Linked DNA regions of Homo sapiens. The protein of the gene in region 1 purifies or fractionates together with the protein of each later gene. This does not show direct contact. Each region holds a gene or a part of one and is shown in the gene's direction. Other genes may lie near its edges. The genes, in order: NT5C3A, ALDH18A1, SUCLA2, IARS2, COQ8A, DHX32 and PCK2.

Region 1 (3,500 bases):
AAAATCAACGGGACTTTGTGCACAGACTGTAGAGTCATACAAACCTAGTTTTGAATCTAGTTTTTCTCATTTATCAAGCCATGTGACCTTGGGCAAATTACTTAACCTCTCTGAATCTCCCATTTTTCATCTATTAATTGGGAGATAATGATAGTACCTACTTCATAGGTTGTGAAGATTAAATGAGATAACACAGTGCCTAGAACATAATTGCTTTCTTTCAGAGCTTATTATTTGTGATCATTAGATAAAGGGATTAATTGTAAGGAGAAATAACTTTAAGATTATCAGGTAACTGCTGATTCTGGTTATATTATTAGCCAAGATGAAGAGAAGGAAAAAATGGCAGGTTTGGAAAGTAGCCAGGAGGTAAGGGAAATGTGGAATCACAAGTTCACTTTAAGTCATATGAAATTTGAGATGATCAAGGAATGACCAACTAGAAATGTTCATGAAATAGTTAATATATTTAAAGTGCTTAGAAAAGTGCCTGGCCCAGAGTAACCAATATATACATTACTTATTGTTATTATTAGCAATAGCAACTGAAAATGGAAGGCTGGAGCTCTAAAGATAAATTGAGGCTAGAAATAATATTTTCCCTAATGTCTAGCCTCTCAATGGCCAGTGTGGAGCTGGATATTATTTCTCATCCATAGTTTTACAGCGAGAAGAAAACAGAAAACTTGGCAATGCCAAGTTCAGTAAAGATGCTGAAAGCTGTCAGAGGTGGAATAACAGGAAATGTTTCCAAAAGAAGGGGCAGAATTAGCTATGTCCATCTTCTCTAAGGTCAGAAGTTGATGACAAGATCAGAAGTTGGTCTGAAAGGCTATGGTAGCAGTGGGTTGAGCCGCCGTTGGTAAAACAATGATGTGAAGACAACTAAAAAATGACTTTTGGGCAGAGGAAGTAGTTGTGCTGAGGATGGGTATTTTGTTTTGTTTTTCGAATGGTTGGCACAGAAGTATGTTGGTGGGCAGAGGAGTAGTGAAAAGCAAATGGTTAAAGATAAGAGGAGGAGAAAAAATAATCAGTCTAGCAAAGTTCTAGGGGAGATGTGGACAGATGCCTTTTGAGGGGAATACGGAACATCTCTGTCTTTCTGAAAGAGTGTACTACTCTGGGCCAGGCGCGGCGGCTCCCGCCTGTAATCCCAGCACTTTGGGAGGCCAAGGCGGGTGGATCATCTGAGGTCAGGAGTTCAAGACCAGCCTGACCAACATGGTGGAACCCCGTCCCTACTAAAAATAAAAAAACAAAGTAGTTGGGCGTCGTGGCGGGTGCCTGTAATCCTAGCTACTTGGGAGGCTGAGGCAGGAGAATCGCTTGAAACCAGGAGGCAGAGGTTGCAGTGAGCCAAGATTGCACCATTGCACTCCAGCCTGGGTGACAGAGCAGGATGTCATCTCAAAATAAAATAAAATAAAATAAAAAAATAATAAAAGTGTACTATTCATACTGAATTATAGTTACTTACTCTCCATATTCTCATTATATTACATCTTATTATTTACAGCCTTAGATTAATTGCCTCCACCTACTTCATTCATTACTTCTATCCAGTTAATCTGATTTTTCCTACTAAATGACACCTCTTTCAAATGTTACATACCGACTTCTTTTCTAATTTCTCCTGCAATATCAGAATGTATTCTATTTTTATCAGCAAATTTTCAGTTTTTCTCTAATAAAGCTACCAAAAAGAGGATGAGACTAGAATTCAAAGAAAGAGCCAAAAGGAAAAAAAAATGAGATTGCTTAATCTTATTCAGTTATTCTAATATCCTTTATTAAATTCTCTAAAGTAGAGTATTTATCCAGTGAAGTAAAATGCAAGCACAACACTAGAATGAATGTGTAGTCTTAAGCTTAGCCCCTAAAAACCAACGAGGAAGGGAGGAAATTATTTAGACAGCAGGATAGGGGAGATGGAATGGTCACTAGAACCTCCACAACCAGTTAAAAATGGTCATTTCCAATTTAAATATATCTCTCAACGATTTATTGCTTTGTTGTTAACGTCAACTATTACTTAAGTAGCTGATGTGGGGGATAGGGGAGATGGAACGATCACTAGAACCTCTACAACCAGTTAAAAATGGTCATTTCCAATTTAAACATATCTCAACAATTTATTGCTTTGTTGTTAATGTCAACTATTACTTAAGTAGCTGATGTGGTTTTTTTAAAACTTTAGCATACTGTGTTTCTTTCTAGGACATAAACTTCTTTTTTTATTTTATTTTCTTTTTGAGGCAGGGTCTCACTCGATCACCCAGGCTGGAGTGCAGTGGTTGAATCTCAGCTCACTGCAACCTCCACCTCCTGGGCTCAAGCCATCCTCCCATCTCGCCTTCAGAGTAGCCAGGACTAAAGCACGCACCACCACGCCCAACTAATTTTTGTATTTTTTTGTAGAGATGGGGGTTTTGCCACATTGCCCAGGCTGTTCTCAGATTGCTGGGCTCAAGAGATCCACCCATCTTGGCCTCCCAAAATGCTGGGATTACAGGTGTGTACCAACTGTGCCTGGTCCTAGTAAATAAACTGTTAACAAAAACTTCTTCCCTTCTTCCACTTTAAGACAATATAGGCCAACTCTGGGTGCATTGCCTATGAGTTAGCCCTGCTCCTCAAGGAGCAGTTAAAAAAACAAAAAAGGGCCGGGTGCGGTGGCTCACACCTGTAATCCCAGCACTTTGGGAGGCCAAGGCGGGCGGATCACCTGAGGTTGGGAGTTCGAGACCAGCCTGACCAACATGGAGAAACCCCATCTCTACTACAAATACAAAAAATTAGCCGGGCATGGTGGCACATGCCTGTAATCCCAGCTACTCGGGAGGCTGAGGCAGGAGAATCACTTGAATCCAGGAGGCGGAGGTTGCAGTGAACGGAGATCACACCATTGCACGCCAGCCAGGGGAACAAGAGCAAAACTCCATCTCAAAAAAAACAAAGAAAATATCACATGTTTTCTGGGTATTATACTGAGTGAATCGAAAGCCCACTATTGAGTCTGTGTTTTAAAAAAGAAGGGAGAAGCAACCCAAGTTTTAAACAACTGCTTTAGTGAATCAAATAGACTTTATTTTATTTTATTTTTGAGACTAGGTCTCACCCTGCTGCCAGGCTGGAGTGCAATGAAGCGATCATGGCTCACTGCAGCCTCAAACTCGTGGGCTCAAGCAGTCCTCCCACTTCAGCCTCCCAAGTAGCTGGGACTACAGGCATGTGGCGCCACACCTGGCTAAGTTAAATTTTTTTTTTTTTTTTTTTTTTTTTTTTTTTTTTTTTTTTTTTGGTAGAGACGGGGTCTCACTATTTGCCCAGGCTGGTCTTAAATTCCTGGGCTCAAGCAGTCTTCCTGCCTTGGCTGCCCAAAGTGCTGGGATTATAGGTGTGAACCACCATACCTGGACAGACTTTTAAAATATCTCCATATCTCAATTTTTATCTAATTTATATCAGTGCTTAGATTTATGACTTTTTAGGACCTG
Region 2 (3,136 bases), on another chromosome or scaffold:
TGAGCTAAGATGATGCCATTGTACTCCAGCCTGGGAGAGAGTGAGGCCCTATCTGTATAACAAAACAAAACAGAAAGACACACATTTTAATCCTTCTGAACTTTTTGAGTAGATGATCTGCCTGGAGAAATAATTCTCACCAAATTGTTAAAAGGTTATGAAAGGGAATTTAACTCAGTTATTCTTAATCATGATACTCTTTATTTTTAGTTCCCCATTTGTATTATGTTGGGATTTTGATGTAATTATCACATCACTTGCATTGATCTTTATACTCTCCATGTACTTGAAAAAGAAATAGCAACATATTTTTAAGGGCTGGGGCACCCAGCATTCAAATGAAAATCCAGGATGAAGGAAGAACAAAAGATCATTTCATTGTCCTTCCAACACCAGCTCAGAGTGAAAGCTGGTTGAGTTAAATTCCTTGTGAAATGCATTAATGACAGTAACAGATTTTACTGAGCATTTACTACATTCCCAGCACTGTGCTAAATGTGTCGCAAGCATGCTCTCACTTCATTCTACAAGATGAATTCTCATTTTCCAGATGAAGAAACTGAGGCATGAGACATAAAGTTAGGTAGTATGTCCAAAGTCATGTGGTCTGTATGCTATTGAACCAGAATTTGAATCCTGCTGGTTTCACTCTCCTTGCCAACCACTACCCCAAGCACATCCCGCCCCTACTGTGTCTCGTACTTGCTCTTCTCTCTGCCTGCAGCACCTCTGTCTGGTTTTCTCCAGCCAGCTCCTTCTCACTGTTCAGGTCCCAACCAAAAGGCACTTCCTTAGGGAGGCTTTCCCTGACCATCCTACCCAGCGTGTCCCCAGCTCCACCACACAGCCTCTGTCATAGCACCCATCACTGCACTTGAGCACCACAGGAGACTATTTACTCACCTGTCCTTTGGCTGCCTCGCCTGCTATAATATCAGCGCCACAAAAACAGGGCCTTGTATCTATTATTCACCACTTTATCCCCAGGGCTCAACACAGTGCCTAGTACATAGTACATGCTCAGTAAAGTTGTGATGATTGAGGGAACCCTGCCTCCACTGTATACAGTGCAGAACACCAAGCCAGGGCCAGGAAAACCCCTGACGTTCCCTAGGTCTGAGCTGGGAGCAAGAGAAAAGGGAATGAACAGTAACCCTTTGATGTATTCAGTAACTGTCTAATGAGTCCCTTGTGCTAAGACTTCTAGGGGATACCACAAACATGTCCCTTTCTTTCTAAGATTTAAAGAGTATTTGAGGAGGTGAAACCATCATGGTAAACATTGTCGTACCCCTCAAAACATGCCCAAATGTCAAAATATGGTATGCAATTCAGATGCTAAACTGATAAAAGAGACAGCACTTGTATTAATAGCATTGTCAAAATGCACTGGGGATAAAATACAGAAGAAGAGTCCACACACTGTTTCACGAGAAGGAGTGTATCATGATTTGTAGTAATCGAAGAACATGTTTATGGGAACAGGGTGACTCAGCTCTTCTGGGGAGGATGGATGAGGAGTTAGCAGGAAGAGAGGGTACCAAGTGAGGGGAAAGCAGCAGGGTGGGTCTGGGGCATGGACAGGAAGCAGAGGCTGGGAAAAGCTACATCTTTTATTCATGCTTTTTCACAGGAGCTGAAGTGGGAATCAGTACATCGAGAATCCACGCCCGGGGACCAGTAGGACTTGAGGGACTGCTTACTACTAAGTGGCTGCTGCGAGGGAAGGACCACGTGGTCTCAGATTTCTCAGAGCATGGAAGTTTAAAATATCTTCATGAGAACCTCCCTATTCCTCAGAGAAACACCAACTGAAAAGAGCCAGGAAAACCCGGGAATTTTCCAAAAGGTCTTCACGTTAAACTTGTCTTATCTCAGGAGAGAGCCCGCTCTTGTCTCCCAGTTCCTGGTAGGGTCTGCCTGTTGGAAAGTGTACCTGGATGCTTCTGGGCTCCGTTTGGCAATAGCAGTCTTGGCTGATGTGCACAGTCTGGCTCCCAGCTCACCCTTTTTTTTTAAAGTAAGAAAATAGTTGCTACCGATAGGGACTTTGCCAAGTCCAATTATCTTCTAGGATTGAAAGGTGCATTTTCCCCATAAAAAAGGCGAGGAAAACCCATGGCTGCTTTGTGTCACCTCAGTGACTTACAGTCCCCCTTGGCATTTAGTTGGTACTAGAGCCAGTCATCCTTAACAAATCTTTTCACATTTTATTTCTTTCACATGTAGTCATCTTCAAAAAGGAAAGATTTGGAATTTTAGAAAAGGGGCAACTCTTCTTTTTAGCATTCTCATCAGAAAGTCACAAAAATCGATGGAATCATTTCCACTGGGAAGATTGACCTTTTGTATTTATTTGTGGGGTAAATTAATAAGCATTCCAGATGCTTGCAGCTTCCTGCATCCAGGAGATGCTGTGTTCCCCGTGATGCAGCTGGAACCCAAGCTGCAGCAGGAGATGCAAGTTTCAGGATGTTCCCCACTGAGCTGGAGGAATATCTACAGCAGTGATGCTTGAAATTTTTGTATGAATTATTTTGTCGTCCTACCCTTTTCCTCCAAAACAAAAATTAGAGGATTATTTTAATACTTTGGATTCTTCCCCCTTTTTTGAGAAATAAAGTTTTTTATGAAAAGCCTGTGCGTGATTGAAGTTTTCTCCCTTAATTGTTGTTACCCCCTTCCTTTTCCTCTCTTGTGACCCTCGTGCCCTGCTTGTGGGCATGGTCTCTTCTCTGGAAGCTGTCTGGGGAGACAAGACATCTGCCTCAACAGTGTTTGTTGGTGGAAGCAACATAGGCAGTCCCCACAGAGGGACTCAGACGGAGAGACAGGAAAGGAAAACAGGAGATTAAGCCCCAAGAGCTTGAAGACTAAAAGTGCAGTGAAGGTCTGAAGTTGGTGGGGTCCAACCTGAGCGAGCTCCCGCGGTGGCACATAGCCCCAGCTGACATCCTTAGTTCACTGCATCCCCCCAGCTCCTCCCTGCCAGTCCTGTTGCCTCAGGATCACTTGACAGCTCGGACCCTCCCCACTCTCCCTCCATCTCTAGCTCCTGTCCTTAGGGCCCCTGGTGCCTGACAGTCTGCAGTTGAAAGATTTCATGGGGGCCTCCTAAAGAAATAAGCACTCGCTT
Region 3 (3,500 bases), on another chromosome or scaffold:
TGGAATTTCTCATTTAAAATTTTTGGACCACAGTTGACTGCAGGTAACTGAAACTGTAGAAAGTGAAATTGGATAAGGGGGGGACTTTGTGTGTGTGTGTGTGTGTGTGTGTGTGTGTGTGTGTGTGTGTCTCCCTTTTCCCACTTTAGATTAATGGTAATCTATACTTTGTTTCTTTTACTTAACAATAATGTGTATCAGAGAACACTTCATAGTAGATACAGAGAGATGAGAATTTTTTGTCTTCCCTTCCATTATGTTTATAGACATTTCATTGAACACTCGAACACTCTTTGGGCTCTATAGCTTAATCAATAGTAGATTCTTGATTTTTTTTTTTTTTTTTTTTTTGAGACTGAGTCTTGCTCTGTCACCTAGGCTGGAGTACAGTGGCGTGATCTCAGCTCACTGTAACCTTTGCCTCCTGGGTTTAAGCAATTCTTGTGTCTCAGCCTTCTGAGTAGCTGAGACTACAGGTGTGTGCCACCACGCCCAGCTAATTTTTTTTTTTTTTTTTTTTTTTTAAGACAGAGTTTTGGTCTTGTTGCCCAGGCTGGAGTGCAGTGGTGTGATCTCGGCTCACTGCAACCTCCATCTCCCAGGTTCAAGCAATCCTCCTGCCTCAGCCTCCCAAGCAGCTGGGATTACAGGCATGTACCACCATGCCTGGCTAATTATGTATTTTTAGTAGAGATGCGGTTTCACCATGTTGGTCAGGCTGGTCTTGAACCCCTGACTTTGTGATCCACCTGCCTCGGCCTCCCAAAGTGCTGGGATTCAGGTGTGAGCCACTGCGCCCAGCCTTGTATTTTTAGTAGAGATAGGGTTTTGCCATGTTGACCAGGCTGGTCTCGAACTCCAGACCTCATATGATCCTCCCACCTCGGCCTTCCAAAGTGCTGGGATTACAAGCATGAGCCCCCAGGCTTGGCCAGACTCTTGAATTTACCGAGTTAATGTGATGTCATTTCACAAAAATAATAAAAGTCTTATGTCCTTCTTTGGGAAAGTACTTACTAGTAAACAAAATTTAACTCTAGCTTGGAGACAGAAGAATTTAAACTTAAACCTGAATTAAAAATAAAGAATTTGAGCAAGGGAATAGTAGGAGAAAGTATTTCAGAAAGCCTATTTTGACTTTGAGATGTGGGATATATTGAAGGGAAAAGGGGAGAGATAGTAGGAGTCCATCTAGTGCAATACTTAGATATGAGAAAAGGTGAAGGTAATAAATAGGTTATAACTTGTCTCTGAAAGTGCACTTTTTTGGAATGAAAACTTAAATTAAGAAAAGCTTGGAGGACATGAAAAGAAGGAGAAGAACCAGTAGGACCTTGATCAAATAGATCATGAGAGGTAAAAGTGAACAGTTGATTTAAATTATGACTACAGTGTTTTTATTGACTGGGAGATTATAGAAGTCATAACAATAATAATATTGAATGAGATGATGATGATATTAGCAGTTACTACTGTTTATTGAGTGTTTACTGTGCATGCAATGCTAAGCTGTTTTCTTCAAGGATTATCTCATTTAATATGAATTTGGTGATAAAATTTCCATTTTTATAGATGAAGAAACAGGCTAGATAAGTTAACTTATTCAAGGTTGTATGTCATAAGCATCAGAGGGGGGATTTGCAGCCAAAGATATCTAACTTCAAAGCCTTTTCTTAACTAATTTACTGAGGAAGAGAGAAGCTGAGTTTGTTTTTTTGGTCTTAGACATGTCTAAATTTGTATGATGTTTTGTATGGTAACTGGTGGATATTTTTAGACAGATTGTAGAGAGAATTGGAACTCAGGTTAGCAATTGTTAACTTACTGACAAAAAGTAAAATACTAACTAGTAGACCCAAATTTCTATCCCAACATTTTAAGTTAAGATTGTATACTTATTTCAAAACAAATTTTTACTTAGATGTGCTTTGAGTTGTGGAGTATCCAACAAAGACACTCACTGTTTCTGTCTTTAAGATAAAATTTAGAATAATATATATATATATACACACACACACACACACACACATACATACACACACATTTTATACACACATATATAATCTTATGTAATACATATGTGTAATCCTAGCAGGTGGTATAACATCTTAATCAGAAAGTATTTAATTGAAGTTTGGACTATGAGGAGTGTCAGACTTGATTATCCTTTGAGAATGTCATTTGCTTATAAGAACGTAATGTGATTTATAGCAATGTCAGAATAGTCCAGATGTTTTAAATGGAAAAAATTGAGTGTACATTAATTTTGCACTGACCTGTAGTTCTGAATTTACCTTTTTGTGAAAATTCTTCGTTCTTTTCTTTTAGGTTGTAAAGCTCTCTGAAATAGTGACCTTAGCGAAGCAAGCACATGTGGATGTGAAATTTCAGTTGCCAATATGATCTGAAAACCCAGTGGATGGCTGAAGGTGTTAAATGTGCTATAATCATTAAGAATACTGTGTTCTGTGTTATTGTTCTTTTTCTTTTTAGTGTGTGGAGATTGTAATTGCCATCTAGGCACACAAACATTTAAAAGGATTTGGACTGCATTTAATTGTACCATTCAGAATGGACTGTTTGTACGAAGCATGTATAATGCAGTTATCTTCTTTCTTTTGTCGCAGCCAGTCTTTTTTGCTTCTCCTACAAAACGTAACTTGCAATTTGCCAGTTTATTATTGTTGGATACAAAGTTCTTCATTGATAAGAGTCCTATAAATAAGATAAATACGAAGATAAAGCTTTATTCTTTAGTGTTAAAATACAGTATATCTAATAACTAGCCTCATTAGTAGAGCAGTATATTAAAACAATGTTTTATGTAAAAAGTGTTTATCTTCAGCACCAAATACATGATAAATGTATCAATCACTATTTATAAACAGAGCTTTCAAACACTCCTCAGAATATTCTTCTAAGTATTTTGATGAAGTAACTTTGTAATTATTTGAACATTGTTTTAATCATTAGGAAACACTGATTAACTGCAAGTCTTCATGATTCTGTCATATTAAGAAACACCTGTAGGTTTGCTTCAAATAAAGGCATATATACCAAGGACTTACAGACAAAATTAAGAATGTCAATTTAAGTTAATAAAAATCTCCCAATATGATTTGGGTTCATGGCTTTTGTTTGCTTGTTTTGAGGTAAACACAGTAGAAGTTGATTTGTTCGTTATTGCAGTATAGAGGTCTAAGCACCAATTCTTAGATCATATACTTGCCATGACAGTGATTTGTTTTTTTTTTTGAGTCAGGGTCTCACTCTGTCACCCAAGCTGGAGTGCAGTGGTATGATCATGCTCACTGCAACCTCTGCCTCCTGGGCTCAAGCAGTCCTCCCACCTGAGCCTCCTAAGTAGCAGGGACTACAGGCACACACCACAAAAAAACATATGTGTTTTTTTTTGTTTTTGATTTTTGTTTTTTTTTTGGTAGGGACAGGGTATCACTATGTTGCTTAGGCTGGTCTCTTACTCCTGAGCTCAAGCAATC
Region 4 (3,500 bases), on another chromosome or scaffold:
CAAACAAGGTAAATGTAAATTAATAAACTTTTGGAAACTAGAAATATCAGCACTATTGTAGGTTAAAATTTTAGTTTTATCTGAGTGGAACAGACCTTGCTGGAAATAGTAACTATAGCACTCTTGAAGAGAAATATGTCCAGACTTCCCCTCGGACCAGATTTTTCTCTCATGATTAGCTCTATTTTTCCAACAAGAAGGAATAAAGTGGAGTTATACTTTATCTGCACATGTGCTCCTCATAATAAAGTACAGAAATAACCAAAATGGACTATCCTATTTGTCTCATAAGATACTTACTCATTTTCATATAGACTTAAATAATTTCTGTTTTCTGGCTGGGTGTGGAAACTCACACCTATAAATCCTACTACTTTGGGAGGCCGAGGTGGGAGGATTGCTTGAGGCCAGGTGTTCAAGACCAGCCTGGGCAACAGAGCAGGAACCTATCTCTAGAAAAATTTTAAAAATTAGCCAGGCGTGTTAGCCAGTGCATGTAGTCCCAGCTCCTTGGGAGGCTGAGGCAGGAGAATCGCTTGAGCCCATGGTTTTGAGGCTGCAGTGAGCTGTGATTGTGCCACTGCACTCCAGCCTGGTTGACAGAGTGAGACCCTGTCTTAAAAAAAAAAAATTGTGTTTTCTCATAATTGGAAATGTGTTTGCATTAGTGTACCCTTAAGTCAGAGGTGTACATACCAATTTTGCCCAAATCAAAAATAAATGAGGCATAAATGAAGGAACACTAATGAATTGTTGGTGACGTCCACTGTTTGCTGTTGTTAAAATGGTGTGATTTTGTTATTTACAATCTCATTCTTTCCTTAATTAATGTCCTTTCGTAGTTCTCAGAGTAAAATAGTATTTTCTGAGTGTAGTCAAATGTGTTATCCAGAAATGACATTTGGAAGATTCCCAGGAGTTCTTGCATATTGCCTGTTTTGTATTTGTCTCATTGAAACATATTTTTGAAAGGAGCATATTTTGCTTGTGATGACTTACATTTTCATTTGCCTGTCTCAGCTTCCAAATTTATTTTGGCTTTGTTCCCTAGATTACCGAATTATACAAACAATATGATTTTGGAAAAGTTGTTCGGCTGTTACGGACGTTTTATACCAGAGAGCTCTCTAACTTTTATTTCAGTATAATCAAAGATAGGTATGTATGACTAAATATTAAAATGCTTAACAATGGCCAGGTGTGGTGACTCACGCCTGTAATCCCAGCACTTTGGGAGGCCGAGGCGGGTGGATGACATGAGGCCAGGAGTTCGAGACCAGTATGGCAAAATACAAAAATTAGCCGGGCATGGTGGCACATGCCTGTAATCCGAGTCACTCAGGAGACTGAGGCACGAGAATCGCTTGAACTTGGGAGGCGGAGGTTGCAATGAGCAGAGATTGTGCTGCTGCACTCCAGCCTGGGTGACAGAGCAAGATCTCGTCTCAAAAAATAACAACAACAAAACCTCAACAAGTATTTTTTGAGTGTCTACTTGTGTTTGGCAACCGTCAGGGATACAGTGATGAGCAAGATGGGCAGTGTTGTGCAGTTATTAAGATTGGGTTCCGGGCCAGGCGTGGTGCCTCACGCCTGTAATCCCAGCACTTTGGGAGGCCGAGGCGGGCGGATCACGAGGTCAGGAGATCGAGACCATCCTGGCTAACACAGTGAAACCCCGTCTCTACTAAAAATACAAAAAATTAGCTGGGCGTGGTGGCGGGTGCCTGTAGTTCCAGCTACTTGGGAGGCTGAGGCAGGAGAATGGCGTGAACCCGGGAGGCAGAGCTTGCAGTGAGCCGAGATCGTGACACTGCACTTCAGCCTGGGCGACAGAGCAAGACTCCGTCTCAAAAAAAAAAAAAAAAAAAGATTGGGTTCCGGAGTCAAGTCTGAGTATAAAGGTTTGACCTCCCGCTTACTAGCTTTCTGATTTGGGGCAACTTATTCTGTAATCTGTTTCTTCATCTGTAAAATGGGTATAATAATACTTACCTCGTGATTGAGAAGGAAAAGCAATAATGTGCTTAAAGCTGTGCTTGATAAAGTGTTCAAAAAATCATCACTACTAATATCAGACGATGAACATAATGCTTGTTCTCAGGAGTTCTCAAATCCTGAGGGGAAGAGAGAGATATATATGTGCAATTATATGGTAACAGTGTATAATATTAGCAGTATCCTTGTAGAAGAGGCCTTGATGCCAAGTCTTCATCTGTTGCTCCAGTGTGCAGGTGACGGTCCTACCTTCATGGTAATGAGTCCAGTCTGAGGCGTTATCCTCAGCCTGTCAGCACCCCAAGGACCTTGCACATAGGGATTATAACTCCTACTCCTTCCCTTAAAACACTAATAACATTGGAGTGGGTGGGAGCCACATGTTAAATACCATCAACTAACTTATTCATAGTCCTTTAATACAGTAGTCTAGACTCTAGTTGTCATCCACCTGAGAAACAGAATGAGATAGCGTAGCCATGAGTGCTTTCAAGGAGGTGGGTACACCTGGACGGAGTAAAATTGTAGGAGAGTGTATTGTATTCTTTAAGTAGAAGATGATTAGAGCCATAGGATTAGCCACTAGGAATAAACTCAACCTGAGGCAGGTCCCATCTAGGTGACCATAATGTATAAAGTATTGTCAACTGCTGAATAAGTTGTTCTTGTTCAGGCTCTATTGTGAAAAGGAAAATGACCCCAAACGACGCTCTTGTCAGACTGCATTAGTTGAAATTTTGGATGTAATAGTTCGTTCTTTTGCTCCCATTCTTCCTCACCTGGCTGAAGAGGTGTTCCAGCACATACCTTATATTAAAGGTAAGGAATACTTCATTTATTCTCTTAATGAGAAATATCCCTGATCAAGGTGCAACTTCTACTTCTATCTGCTTCATAAAAGGGGCACTTATCCATTTACAGTGACTGCTGTGTGACACAGTGTGTCTTGGTCATGTATTTGTTTCTGCACCTATTTGTAGAGGAGTAGGGTAAATTTCAGAATTCTGTGCTTTCTGAAATGTATTAGCAGCTTGACAGTGTCGAGAAATCACCTTTTTTCTTAAATACCTTTATAACTGTTCTGAAATGGCTGGCATGGTGGCTCACACCTGTAATCCCAGCACTTTGGGAGGCCGAGGTGGGCAGATCACTTGAGGTCAGGAGTTCAAAATTAGCCAGGCCAACATGGCGAAACCCCATCTCTACTAAAAATATAAAAATTAGTGGGGCATGGTGGTGGCGGGTGCCTGTAGTCCCAGCTACTTGGGAGGCTAAGGCAGGAGAATTGCTTGAACTCGGGAGGTGGAAGTTGCAGTGAGCCAAGATCATGCCACTGTACTTCAGCCTGGGTGACAGAGCAAGACTGTCAAAAAAAATGTTCTGAAATATATTTTAGGTTGTATTAAAACAAAATATAGTGCTTTTAGTGAGTTTTATGTTAGTTGTTTTCTTCTGATTGTATTAAGTTTATAAAAATTAGAAACTATAGAAGTGTAGGAAGA
Region 5 (3,500 bases), on another chromosome or scaffold:
CACCCTCCACCCACCCACCACACACCTGCACACCTCTTTATCCTCCACCCACCCTCCACCCACCCGAACACCTCCTTACACACCCTCCACATACCCTCCAAACACCCGCACACCTTGCACACCCTCCACACACCCACCTCTCACCCACACACCTCCTTACACACCCTCCACACCCACCAAATACCTGCACACCTCCTTACACATCCTCCACACACCCACCGAACACCCACTGAACACTGCACCTCCTTACCCTCCACACACCCCCCACAGCCACACACCACCTTACACACTCTCCACACACTCTACCCTCTACACACCCGCCCACCTTACACTCCACACACCCGCCCACCTCCTTACCCTCCACACACCTGCCCACCTCCTTACACACCCTCCACACACCTGCACACCTCCTTACATCTTCCACACACCCACCTCATACCTGCACACCTCCTTACACACCCACCTCACACCCGCATACCTCCGTACACACCCACCTCTCACCCGCACAGCTCCTTACACACCCTCCATGCACACACCTCCTTACACACCCACCTCATACCTGCACACCACCTTACACACCCTCCACACACCCACCAATCACCCACTGAACACTGCACCTCCTTACCCCTCCACACACCCACCACACACCCACACACCTTACCCTCCACACACCCGCACACCTCCTTGTAAACCCACCTTTTGCTGCTGCCCTGCTCTCTGGAAGTCGCTGGTCTGGCCGGGTCAGGTGTGGCTGGGGACAGGCGAGGTGTGCAGGCAGACCCTGCAGGCTTCTCCTCACCAGCTTAGTAACCTGGGGAGGCTGTAGTCTATGCAGAGGCACCTCACCTCTGACGTGAAGGTCACAGCCAGGGTCAGGCAGGTGGTCAGGTCAGGACACTCATCCCACTGAGGTTGGTGGCCCGCTGTGGCCGGGCCCTCTGTGGAGAGGTCCTGCGAACGGACCACGCTGAGGCTTTGGGCATTCGTGCTGCTGTGATGAGGAGTGGGGCGCACTGAGTCCCTGCCGCCTTCTGCCTGTGAACACCAGGCCGGGCTCCTCCTCAGGCCTCTTCAGGCACGGGGGGCGGGCCAGGTAGGTGCGAGGTCAGCCCAGCAGGGGCTTTCCTGTTAGTGGGGCCTGGGGTGTGGAGAGCAGTGCCAAGGGAACCGTCTGCGTGTGGATCTTCCTCAATGCCTCTGGAGTTCTGGGCCAAGTCCCCTGGCCCCGGCCCATTCAGGGAATGTCAGCTCATTCTGGTATCACGCCCTTCCACCCCCGTCCATGGGGACCCCCAGAGACACCCAGTGTCTGGCCACACTGCAGCCCTCACAGCCCTGTCTTCCAGCCTGGGCTAGCCTCCTTTGGGGGCCCTGCCAGTCCCCGGACAGCCCCCCTTCACCCACCAACGCTGCCTTCTGGGGCAAGGGCACTAGTCCATCCCACAGGCCCGGACTGAGTCCTGGGGACACGGGCGGCATGCACGTCCTTGGAAGGGGCTGAGGACGGAGGGCTTAGCAAGGGTATTTTTAGCGTTGGTGCTGACACTCTCTGGGAAATGAAGCCTGGGTTTCTCTGGAAGGAGAAGCCAGCCTTCCCCTACTGTCCCCTACTGTCCTCTCCAAAGCTGGCTGTTCTCCAGACTACCTCATCCAAGCAGGGAAGAGGCCAGGCTGGCTTCACAGTTACAGCTAGTGTCCTTTGTCAGGGACAGTGGTGACCCCAGGCTGGGGGTTAAGGGGCCCAGGCATTGTTAGCCCTGAGAGGGGGACCCGAGGCTTAGGCTGGAGTGGGGTGGCCCTGGGCAGCCCCAAACTGTGCTCCAGCTTCCTGACCAGGCCCTGGCACCCTCTGGACTGGAGGACACCGGCCACCCTGGCTGAGCTCTGCCCTGGAAGGACCTTTCCTGAGCTGGGGGCACACTGCCGTAGCCCTGGGCCCATCCCCACTTGCCAGGTCATTCTCACAGCCAGCCCTGCCTGGGTGGGGGACATACCTCCAGCCTGTGGCATTGACCAGCTTTGCCAATGGGCTACCTGGGAAAGCCCGGATTGGGCCAGGCACCGTTCCCATCTCTCAGGAGTGCTGCTGCTAGCCTAGGCCTACTCTGTGTGTCATGAGGAGACAGACTGTCCCTCCTCTGGCCTGGGGCAGTGGCCTCTCCTCAAGGTTTGCCTCTCTGCCTGCCCCTCCCCAGGGACCCAGGCCCAAGCCCCCAGCCCACAAGTACCACAGGCCTAGGGGGCAGAGGGGACATTGACTGCCTTTCCTTTGGTGCTGGCGTCTGCTGCTGCCTAAGGCAAGGGGGTGGCCGAGGGACCCTTCTGGGCCCAGCCCTCTTGGACTCGCTCTGCCCATGGGTCATAGCTCAGCCTCCCAGGGCAGCTCAGCCTCTTCCCGCAGAGCTAACATCTCCCACCTTCACAGGTCCCTTCCTGCTGTCTGGGACCCTGGAGTGAGCCTGGCCCCTTTCCACGTAGCTGCCTGCATGTGTGGGCAGATGCGGGTCTTCTCCGAGGCTCCTCTTCCGGGCCCGCAGGGCCTCCATTCTCAGGGCGGCCCGCCCCACCCTGGTTTCTCAGGGGCCAGGCTGCACCCGGCTCCGGGGCAGAGGGCAGTGGCACGGTCACCTCTCTCTTCCCCTGCTGGGGACCTGGCTCCGTGCCACCCGAGCGCTGTGCCAGGCCTGAAGTGATTTGAACTGAGGCAAATGCTGGGTGCTGTGGGGGCCAGAGAGGAGGAAGCCGCACTGCGACCTCTTGGGGCTTGAGATCTAACTAGATTCACAGGACAGAAGGCAGGAGAAGCTCCGAATGTCACAAGGGCTGGAGGCCCGGCGACAAGGGGTGCTGAGGAACTCAGGGAAGGTGGAAAGACTTGGAGCCCCAGATCCCTGCTCAGGCCTCTGTCTGCCTCTGGATAGGGGCACCTCCATGTCTAGGCAGCACTGAACTGATGGCCCAGGATAGGGGGGAAGCTAGAGAGGACCCAGCAGCCCTGGGCCACACGCCTGCTGGCAGTTGACTTAGCCGGCCTTCTGCTGCTCCTGAGTCGCGGCCCTCAGCCCTCCCCTTGGTGGACTGGAAAAAGGCCACCTGCACCCTTGGGGTCACTGCATGCTCATCACTGGCCAGCTGGCTGCACTGAGCTGCAGGGGGCCTCTGTGGGTGGACGGGAGAGACGGGCACCCCTGGGCTGTGCTGCCCTTGGCCTGAGCGCCGTTCCCTTGAGGACAGCCCTCTGGCTGAAGCCACTTGGCCCCATGTGCAAATGCATGCCGACCCCACAGGTGCAGCGGGCCTTTGTGCAGTGCCCTGGGTGGGGGTGCACAGGGCAAAGGCTCGGCACCTCCTCACCTGGGGTCCTCTGGGTCCCTACATCCCTCTTGGTTCCCACTCCCACGCCCCTTCCAGCCACAGGCAGCACCATGGCCCTGTCACGGCCCGCCAGGTCCCCATATGGAAGGGAGAGGCCCTTTGTGTGTGTGCGTTTGTGTGTGCAC
Region 6 (3,500 bases), on another chromosome or scaffold:
TTTCTTGTATAGGCACAAATTTATCTTTAAAAAGGTAACTTTTCAGAGCTACTCCTATGTCTACACTTTCTCAAAATGTGCAAAGGAGGCATATTTTGGGGTCACATATTCTGGTCTCCTTCAGTCATATTCTGGGGAGGTATGTCCTGAGCCCCAACATTAGATAGTTAATAAATACTTATTATTCAGTTTGTTGTTGTATTTGGACTTCAAGTTTTTGTTCAAGTGAGATCCATATTTTACTCTTAAGTTTTAAAGCAAGCAACCAGTATTTTTATCATGAAATTCATTTCTAGATTCTCGCGATGTAAGAATTAGAATAGACCATATAGTGTGAATAATAAGAAGTCCCATTTCTCATAGAGAAGTTACGAATAGATCTAGTAGAATAGACTATGCTCTAATAGAATAGAATTAGAAACTGATGGAACCCCTTCATTTTTCAGATGAATAAACTGTGGCCCAGAAGGATTTGATAATTTGTCTATCTAATGTCAGTAGCTTTCTGAATTGGAGTTAAAAGAATATTTTCTACTATAAATTGTTGCTTTCAAGTTGTTTATTATCTCTAGAGTTTACCTATTTTATTATCACTATTATTTTTTGAGACAGAGAGGCTCGTTCTGTCACCCAGGCTGGAATGCAGTGGGGCAGTCTTGGCTTACTATGACCTCCGTCTCCCGGTTCAAGCAATTCTTGTGCCTCAGCCTCTTGAGTAGCTGGGATTACAGGCATGCACCATCATGCTTGGCTTATTTTTGTATTTTTAGTAGAGTCAGGGTTTCACAATTTTGGCCAGGCTGGTCTCGAACTCCTGGGCTCAAGCGATCCTCCCACCTTCACCTCCCAAAGTGCTGGGATTACAAACATGAGCCACTGTACCTGCCCTAAAGTTAACTTACTTTAAAGGTAATTTGAAAAGAGGAGGGCTGGACAACAGATGTTTTTTATCTGATTTACAGCTGCCAGTATCAAAGGTTTATTATGATTTGTTCTTTGTTACGCTGTTATTGTTATAACAAACGATTTCAGTTCATTACGAGAAGCTAACGATGAGAACTGACTGAGTATAATTTTCCTAGTTTCTGTGGACAAATAACATTGAAAAAATGTGTTTTTATTTTACAATAATTTCAAACTTACAAAAAGTTGCAAAAATAGTACAAAGATTTTCCATATGTTGTTCACCCAGATTCCCCAAATGTAAGATTTTACCATATAAACTTTATCTTTCCCTCCCTGCCCCCTCCATACATTCATACACATTTTTATTCTGAACCATTTAGGGGTAGGTTGAGGACATGATGCCCTTTGCCTCCAAATACTTAACAGAGTATTTATTTACTGAAAAACAGTGTGTAGCCGTAACATAATTATCAAAATCTGGAATGTAATGTTGATATCTAATTATTATCTGATTTCTAGACATTCACATTTAATCAGTTTCCCATTGATAGCCTTTATAATCACTGAAAAAAATTGTTTTTCTGGTCCAAAATCCAATCTAAAATTGCATTGTATTTTATTGTCGTTTTTTAATCTGACACAACTCCCCAGTCTCTCCCTGTCCTTTATGACTTTGACATTTTTGAAGAGCACAGGTTATATATTCTGCAGAACCTCCCTCAGTTTGAACATGTCTGATGTTTCCTTAGGGTTAGGTTCCGGCTCTGCATTTGTGGCAAGAAGATCACACAAGTGCTGTGTATCCTTCTCAGTGCCTCATATCAGGAGGCACAAGATGTCAGTTTTGCCCATGCTGGTGATGTTAATTCTGATCCCTTGGTAAGGTGGTATCTGCCTGGTTCTTTATTGAAAAGTTAACAATTTCCCTCCAATCATTTAATAGATACATATTTTGAAAGTATGTAAATGTTTCTCATTATACATTTGTAACCACCCAATGGGTTCATCTTGTTTGTTGTCAAGATAGAGCCAATTTATCAAGACAAGGGAATTGAAATAGAGAATGAATTTAATACACATAAAGCTGGCTAAACAGCAGACAGGAGTTGTACTATTACTCCAATCAGCCTCTTTGTCAATTTGGAGGCTAGAGTTTTTCAAGGATAGTTTGGTGGGCAGGGGGCTAAGGAATGGGTACTGCTGATTGGCTGAGGATGCAATCACAGAGGTGTGGAAAACAGTCCTCATGTGCTGAGTCCACTTCTGGGTAGGGACAACAGAGGAGTTACTGGTCTATCCAGTTATAGGGCCTCCAGTTGTCAGAAATACAAAAACCTGAAAAGACATCTCAGAAGGCCAATCTTAGGTTCTATAATAGTGATGTTATTTACAGGGAGGTTACAAATCTTGTGACCTCTGGAATAATGACTGGTAATCATTTAACTACACCTACATCTTGGCAGAATTCAGGCCCCTCTCATCCTCCTAACCTGGTGTCCTTTCATTAGTTTTACAAAGGCAGTTTCATTTTGCTGTCATCATTTAAACTATAAACTATCTACAAAAGTTAGCTTGGCCCACTGCAGGAATGGCTAAGGGAGTTTGGGGGTGAAAGGCAAGATGGAGTTGTCAGGTCAGATCTCCTTCACCATCATAATTTTCTCACTGTTACAATTTCTGCAAAGGCAGTTTCACATTCATCCACTAGTGTTAGCATTTTTGGTGATTCTTACCTTTGAATTATTACATTAGTAGTAACCAAAGATGATTATTCTAATTCTGACATGCCTTCTACACATTATTTAGAATCTTTCTGTAAGTCTGAGCTTTCTCTCCTTCATCATTTATTTATGTCAATGTGGACTCATAAATTCTTATTTTATTCTATGGGTTATAATGTATTACTAAGCCTACTTACTTTGTTGTTCAAATTGCCCCCAATGTGGCTTCTCTGTCCTTTTGACATTTCCCCATTATTGAGCACTTCTTTGCTTTCTGGCTCAGTAAGATGTTCCAGGTTCATCTAGTACATTCCGCATGCCGGTGTAGAAACCATTTTTTTTTTCTCCAGGAGTCCTTGTTCCGTTTAGTGGTGAACTGTGTTTTGAAACCAAGATCTGGACACTAAGTACCTATTACCATTGGTTTATCATTGCAATTTTTTTTTTGAGACAGTGTTTCATTCTGTCACCCAGGCTGGAGTGCAGTGGCATGATCACGGCTCACTGCAACCTCAACATCCTGGGCTCAAGTGATCCTCCCACCTCAGCCTTTAGAGTAGCTGGGACTACAAGTGTGTGCCACTACACTCAACTAATTTTTGTATTTTTTATAGAGACGGGGTTTTGTCATGTTGCCCAGGTTGGTCTCGGACTCCTGGGCTCAAGCAACCTACCTGCCTTGGCCTCCCAAAGTGCTGGGATTATAGGCCCACTTCACCCGGCCTATCATTGCTTTTAGGCCATCTCAGTGGACACAACAAGGAAATAAATGTATGTGAGTGCAATATACACACGTCTCATTCTATCCATCTATTTGTGGCTCTGTTTCTCTCTGTCTTTCTCTATTTTTATGTATTTCTATTTTCTTACCTC
Region 7 (3,500 bases), on another chromosome or scaffold:
GAGGCCAAGGCGGGTGGATCACCAGGTGTCGGGAGTTTGGGACCAGCCTGACCAACATGGAGAAACCCCGTCTCTACTGAAAAAAAAAAAAAAAAATACAAAAATTAGCCCAGCATGGCAGCGCATGCCTGTAATCCCAGCTACTTGGGAGGGTGAGGCAGGAGAATCACTTAAACCCAAGAGGCGGAGGTTGCAGTGAGCCAAGATCGCGTCATTGCACTCCAGCCTGGGCAATAAGAGCGAAACTCTGTCTCAAAAAAAAAAAAGAAAGAAACTGGGATTTTTTTTTTTTTTTGAGATGGAGTCTCACTGTATCACCCAGGCTGGAGTGCAGTGGCATGATTTCAGCTCACAACAACCTCTGCCTCCGGGGAATTGTCTCAAGCAATTCTCCTGCCTCAGCCTCCGGAGTAGCTGGGATTACAAGCATGCGCCACCACACCCAGCTGATTTTTGTATTTTTAGTAGAGACAGGGTTTCACCATGTTGGCCAGGTTGGTCTCAAACTCCTAACCTCAAGTGATCCACCCACCTCAGCCTCCCAAAGTGCTGGGATTACAGGCATGAGCCACTGCGCCCAGCCTAGTTTGTAGTTTGTATTTTATTTTAATGTTAAATGAAGAAGCTGATATAAATAAGATCCTTTGCTTTTTTTTTTTTTCCTCACCAGTTCAGGGAGCTTTTGCCAGGGGCAGAGACCCCCAGAGGGCTGGGACCTTGGGGAACACCCCTTAGATGGGACAAAGCCTGGAGGAAGGGACTGAGATGTGATTGGGTGGGGAAACATAAGGCCAACAGAAGACCTGGAGTCAAAGTTGGACTTGAAAAAGTGGGTCTAGGGACAAGGGAAACCTGCTGGCCACCATCTTCCTGACAATCCCCTCTCCCCCAGCTGGCTGGCCCGCACAGACCCCAAGGATGTGGCACGAGTAGAGAGCAAGACGGTGATTGTAACTCCTTCTCAGCGGGACACGGTACCACTCCCGCCTGGTGGGGCCCGTGGGCAGCTGGGCAACTGGATGTCCCCAGCTGATTTCCAGCGAGCTGTGGATGAGAGGTTTCCAGGCTGCATGCAGGGTAACCAGGGCAGGGGCACAGTGGCAAGGGCACGGAAGATGTGAACAGGTTTGGAACCCTTCATCCAGGGGATGCCTTCCTCCACAGGCCGCACCATGTATGTGCTTCCATTCAGCATGGGTCCTGTGGGCTCCCCGCTGTCCCGCATCGGGGTGCAGCTCACTGACTCAGCCTATGTGGTGGCAAGCATGCGTATTATGACCCGACTGGGGACACCTGTGCTTCAGGCCCTGGGAGATGGTGACTTTGTCAAGTGTCTGCACTCCGTGGGCCAGCCCCTGACAGGACAAGGTAAGCACCTGCTCTGCCCCAAGGGGAACACAGAGGCCTTCTTGTACTCAGAGGAAATCCCAAATCCTACCTCTCCACAGACCCTAAGAACCTGTCCTCTCTGGCAACCTAATTCCCAAGATCCAGAGCAGCAGTCCCAGCAGAGGGATAAGGCTGTGTTTGCAGAGCACTTTGCACTAGGTTGAGAAAAATCCGTGTCCAAGAATAGGGGCATGGAAGCTGATGGTTATTATGAGGTGGGGGGCTTCAGCCACCTCTTGGTGCTGCTACTGCTCCCAAGTGTCTCTCCTGCCAATCCCTGATCCCTCTGGCCCCGACACCCCAGTTCCTGATGCTGCTGCCAGCAGCCCCATGACCCCATTGTCCCCAGGGGAGCCAGTGAGCCAGTGGCCGTGCAACCCAGAGAAAACCCTGATTGGCCACGTGCCCGACCAGCGGGAGATCATCTCCTTCGGCAGCGGCTATGGTGGCAACTCCCTGCTGGGCAAGAAGTGCTTTGCCCTACGCATCGCCTCTCGGCTGGCCCGGGATGAGGGCTGGCTGGCAGAGCACATGCTGGTGAGGGCCTGGTGAGAAGCAGGGCAGCTGCCGGGGACAGGGCAGGGGTGGGGCCTGGCCAGTCTGCCTCAGCCTCACCTCCCTCCTGCCAGGTGCCAGGCTGGTGGGCGGGGACTCTACTTGAAGGCCCAAAGCTTTGGCCTCAGGCTGCTGAATGTTGAGGTTTCCCCTGCCACTAACCCAGGCCTGATGGCAGGGCAATCACTTATATAGTTAATAAACATTGGTCCTCCCTATTAGACCCTAGCTGCCCTTCCCCATGCAGACCATGCCCTGACTTTTGGTGACCTCTTTCTTATTCCCTCTCTCCCCAATGCACAGATCCTGGGCATCACCAGCCCTGCAGGGAAGAAGCGCTATGTGGCAGCCGCCTTCCCTAGTGCCTGTGGCAAGACCAACCTGGCTATGATGCGGCCTGCACTGCCAGGCTGGAAAGTGGAGTGTGTGGGGGATGATATTGCTTGGATGAGGTTTGACAGTGAAGGTGAGGGACTCTCAGATCATACTCTTGGTTCTGGCTCTTGTCAGAGCCTCGGGGTCTCCTCTCTAGTGTTCACAATGACTTTGTCAGTGAGAAAGTTTCCTGAACACCCAACCCTGCTCCATTCCTCTGGCAGCCCAGCCACCCGAGAGACAGCCTTTCCTCATCAGATCTTGGGTCCATCTCAGGACAGGGGTGGGTGGAGCAGGACCTTCTTTGGTCTTACATCTCAAGTTTTCCTTGTTTGGTCCTTCCTTTCTTTCACTTCTCCTAACAGGTCGACTCCGGGCCATCAACCCTGAGAACGGCTTCTTTGGGGTTGCCCCTGGTACCTCTGCCACCACCAATCCCAACGCCATGGCTACAATCCAGAGTAACACTATTTTTACCAATGTGGCTGAGACCAGTGATGGTGGCGTGTACTGGGAGGGCATTGACCAGCCTCTTCCACCTGGTGTTACTGTGACCTCCTGGCTGGGCAAACCCTGGAAACCTGGTATGTGCGGTGGGGAAGGTGTGGCACAGCCTCCAGGCCTCAGCACCTTAATGGTGGAAAAGCTTTCTCCACAACCTCCAACCATCTTCTAGGACTGCCAGGAGGCACAGAAGTCATGAACGTTTGCAGTTTCCAGTCCCAGGCAAAATCTCAGTTCATGTCCCAACTCCACCAGTCACTGGTTTTGTGATCTGGCTAAGTTGCTCAACTTCCCTAAGCTTTAGTTTCCACATCAGTTGAATGAGGGTAGTTGTGATAGTACCTATCTCATGAGATTGTTGGAGGATTAAATAGTGCATAAAAAGGGTTTATCACACTGACAAATACACAGTAAATTCTCAATAATAAATACAGGCTGGATTTTTTTTTAATGAAAGGAAAAGGAAGGACTTTTGAACATTCTTACAGAAGGTATTGGGCTCCAAGCACTATCCATAAAGTTTGGCCCATTAGGAAAAGAGGAAAGCTGCCTCCTCTGCTCCAACTCTCCTCCTGCCACTTGGCTCCCACTGTCCCCTGTATAATAACCACTGTCTAAAGGTCAGTATTGTTACCGTCACCCTTCCCCTGTCCCTCCAAAGCATTCACCCCAATCCT

The links.
Region 2: the proteins of NT5C3A (region 1) and ALDH18A1 purify together in Homo sapiens (affinity purification with mass spectrometry; one large-scale study listed by BioGRID and IntAct). This does not show direct contact.
Region 3: the proteins of NT5C3A (region 1) and SUCLA2 purify together in Homo sapiens (affinity purification with mass spectrometry; one large-scale study listed by BioGRID and IntAct). This does not show direct contact.
Region 4: the proteins of NT5C3A (region 1) and IARS2 purify together in Homo sapiens (affinity purification with mass spectrometry; one large-scale study listed by BioGRID and IntAct). This does not show direct contact.
Region 5: the proteins of NT5C3A (region 1) and COQ8A purify together in Homo sapiens (affinity purification with mass spectrometry; one large-scale study listed by BioGRID and IntAct). This does not show direct contact.
Region 6: the proteins of NT5C3A (region 1) and DHX32 purify together in Homo sapiens (affinity purification with mass spectrometry; one large-scale study listed by BioGRID and IntAct). This does not show direct contact.
Region 7: the proteins of NT5C3A (region 1) and PCK2 purify together in Homo sapiens (affinity purification with mass spectrometry; one large-scale study listed by BioGRID and IntAct). This does not show direct contact.

What each region holds. Positions count from the first base shown.
Region 1 is NC_000007.14:33,056,277-33,059,776, reverse strand, and holds part of NT5C3A (cytosolic 5'-nucleotidase 3A), read left to right. Parts: intron 1-3,500. UniProt on the Homo sapiens protein: Nucleotidase which shows specific activity towards cytidine monophosphate (CMP) and 7-methylguanosine monophosphate (m(7)GMP). CMP seems to be the preferred substrate.
Region 2 is NC_000010.11:95,605,441-95,608,576, reverse strand, and holds the end of ALDH18A1 (delta-1-pyrroline-5-carboxylate synthase), read left to right. Parts: intron 1-1,633; coding exon 1,634-1,815; 3' UTR 1,816-2,636; downstream 2,637-3,136. UniProt on the Homo sapiens protein: Bifunctional enzyme that converts glutamate to glutamate 5-semialdehyde, an intermediate in the biosynthesis of proline, ornithine and arginine.
Region 3 is NC_000013.11:47,942,274-47,945,773, reverse strand, and holds the end of SUCLA2 (succinate--CoA ligase [ADP-forming] subunit beta, mitochondrial precursor), read left to right. Parts: intron 1-2,328; coding exon 2,329-2,403; 3' UTR 2,404-3,118; downstream 3,119-3,500. UniProt on the Homo sapiens protein: ATP-specific succinyl-CoA synthetase functions in the citric acid cycle (TCA), coupling the hydrolysis of succinyl-CoA to the synthesis of ATP and thus represents the only step of substrate-level phosphorylation in the TCA.
Region 4 is NC_000001.11:220,139,132-220,142,631, forward strand, and holds part of IARS2 (isoleucine--tRNA ligase, mitochondrial precursor), read left to right. Parts: coding exon 1-8; intron 9-1,051; coding exon 1,052-1,158; intron 1,159-2,671; coding exon 2,672-2,817; intron 2,818-3,500.
Region 5 is NC_000001.11:226,978,294-226,981,793, forward strand, and holds part of COQ8A (atypical kinase COQ8A, mitochondrial), read left to right. Parts: intron 1-3,500. UniProt on the Homo sapiens protein: Atypical kinase involved in the biosynthesis of coenzyme Q, also named ubiquinone, an essential lipid-soluble electron transporter for aerobic cellular respiration.
Region 6 is NC_000010.11:125,874,793-125,878,292, reverse strand, and holds part of DHX32 (putative pre-mRNA-splicing factor ATP-dependent RNA helicase DHX32), read left to right. Parts: intron 1-3,500.
Region 7 is NC_000014.9:24,097,311-24,100,810, forward strand, and holds part of PCK2 (phosphoenolpyruvate carboxykinase [GTP], mitochondrial isoform 1 precursor), read left to right. Parts: intron 1-892; coding exon 893-1,077; intron 1,078-1,164; coding exon 1,165-1,368; intron 1,369-1,738; coding exon 1,739-1,926; intron 1,927-2,247; coding exon 2,248-2,410; intron 2,411-2,684; coding exon 2,685-2,903; coding exon of another isoform or gene 2,904-2,995; exon of another isoform or gene 2,996-3,443; intron 3,444-3,500. UniProt on the Homo sapiens protein: Mitochondrial phosphoenolpyruvate carboxykinase that catalyzes the conversion of oxaloacetate (OAA) to phosphoenolpyruvate (PEP), the rate-limiting step in the metabolic pathway that produces glucose from lactate and other precursors derived from the citric acid cycle.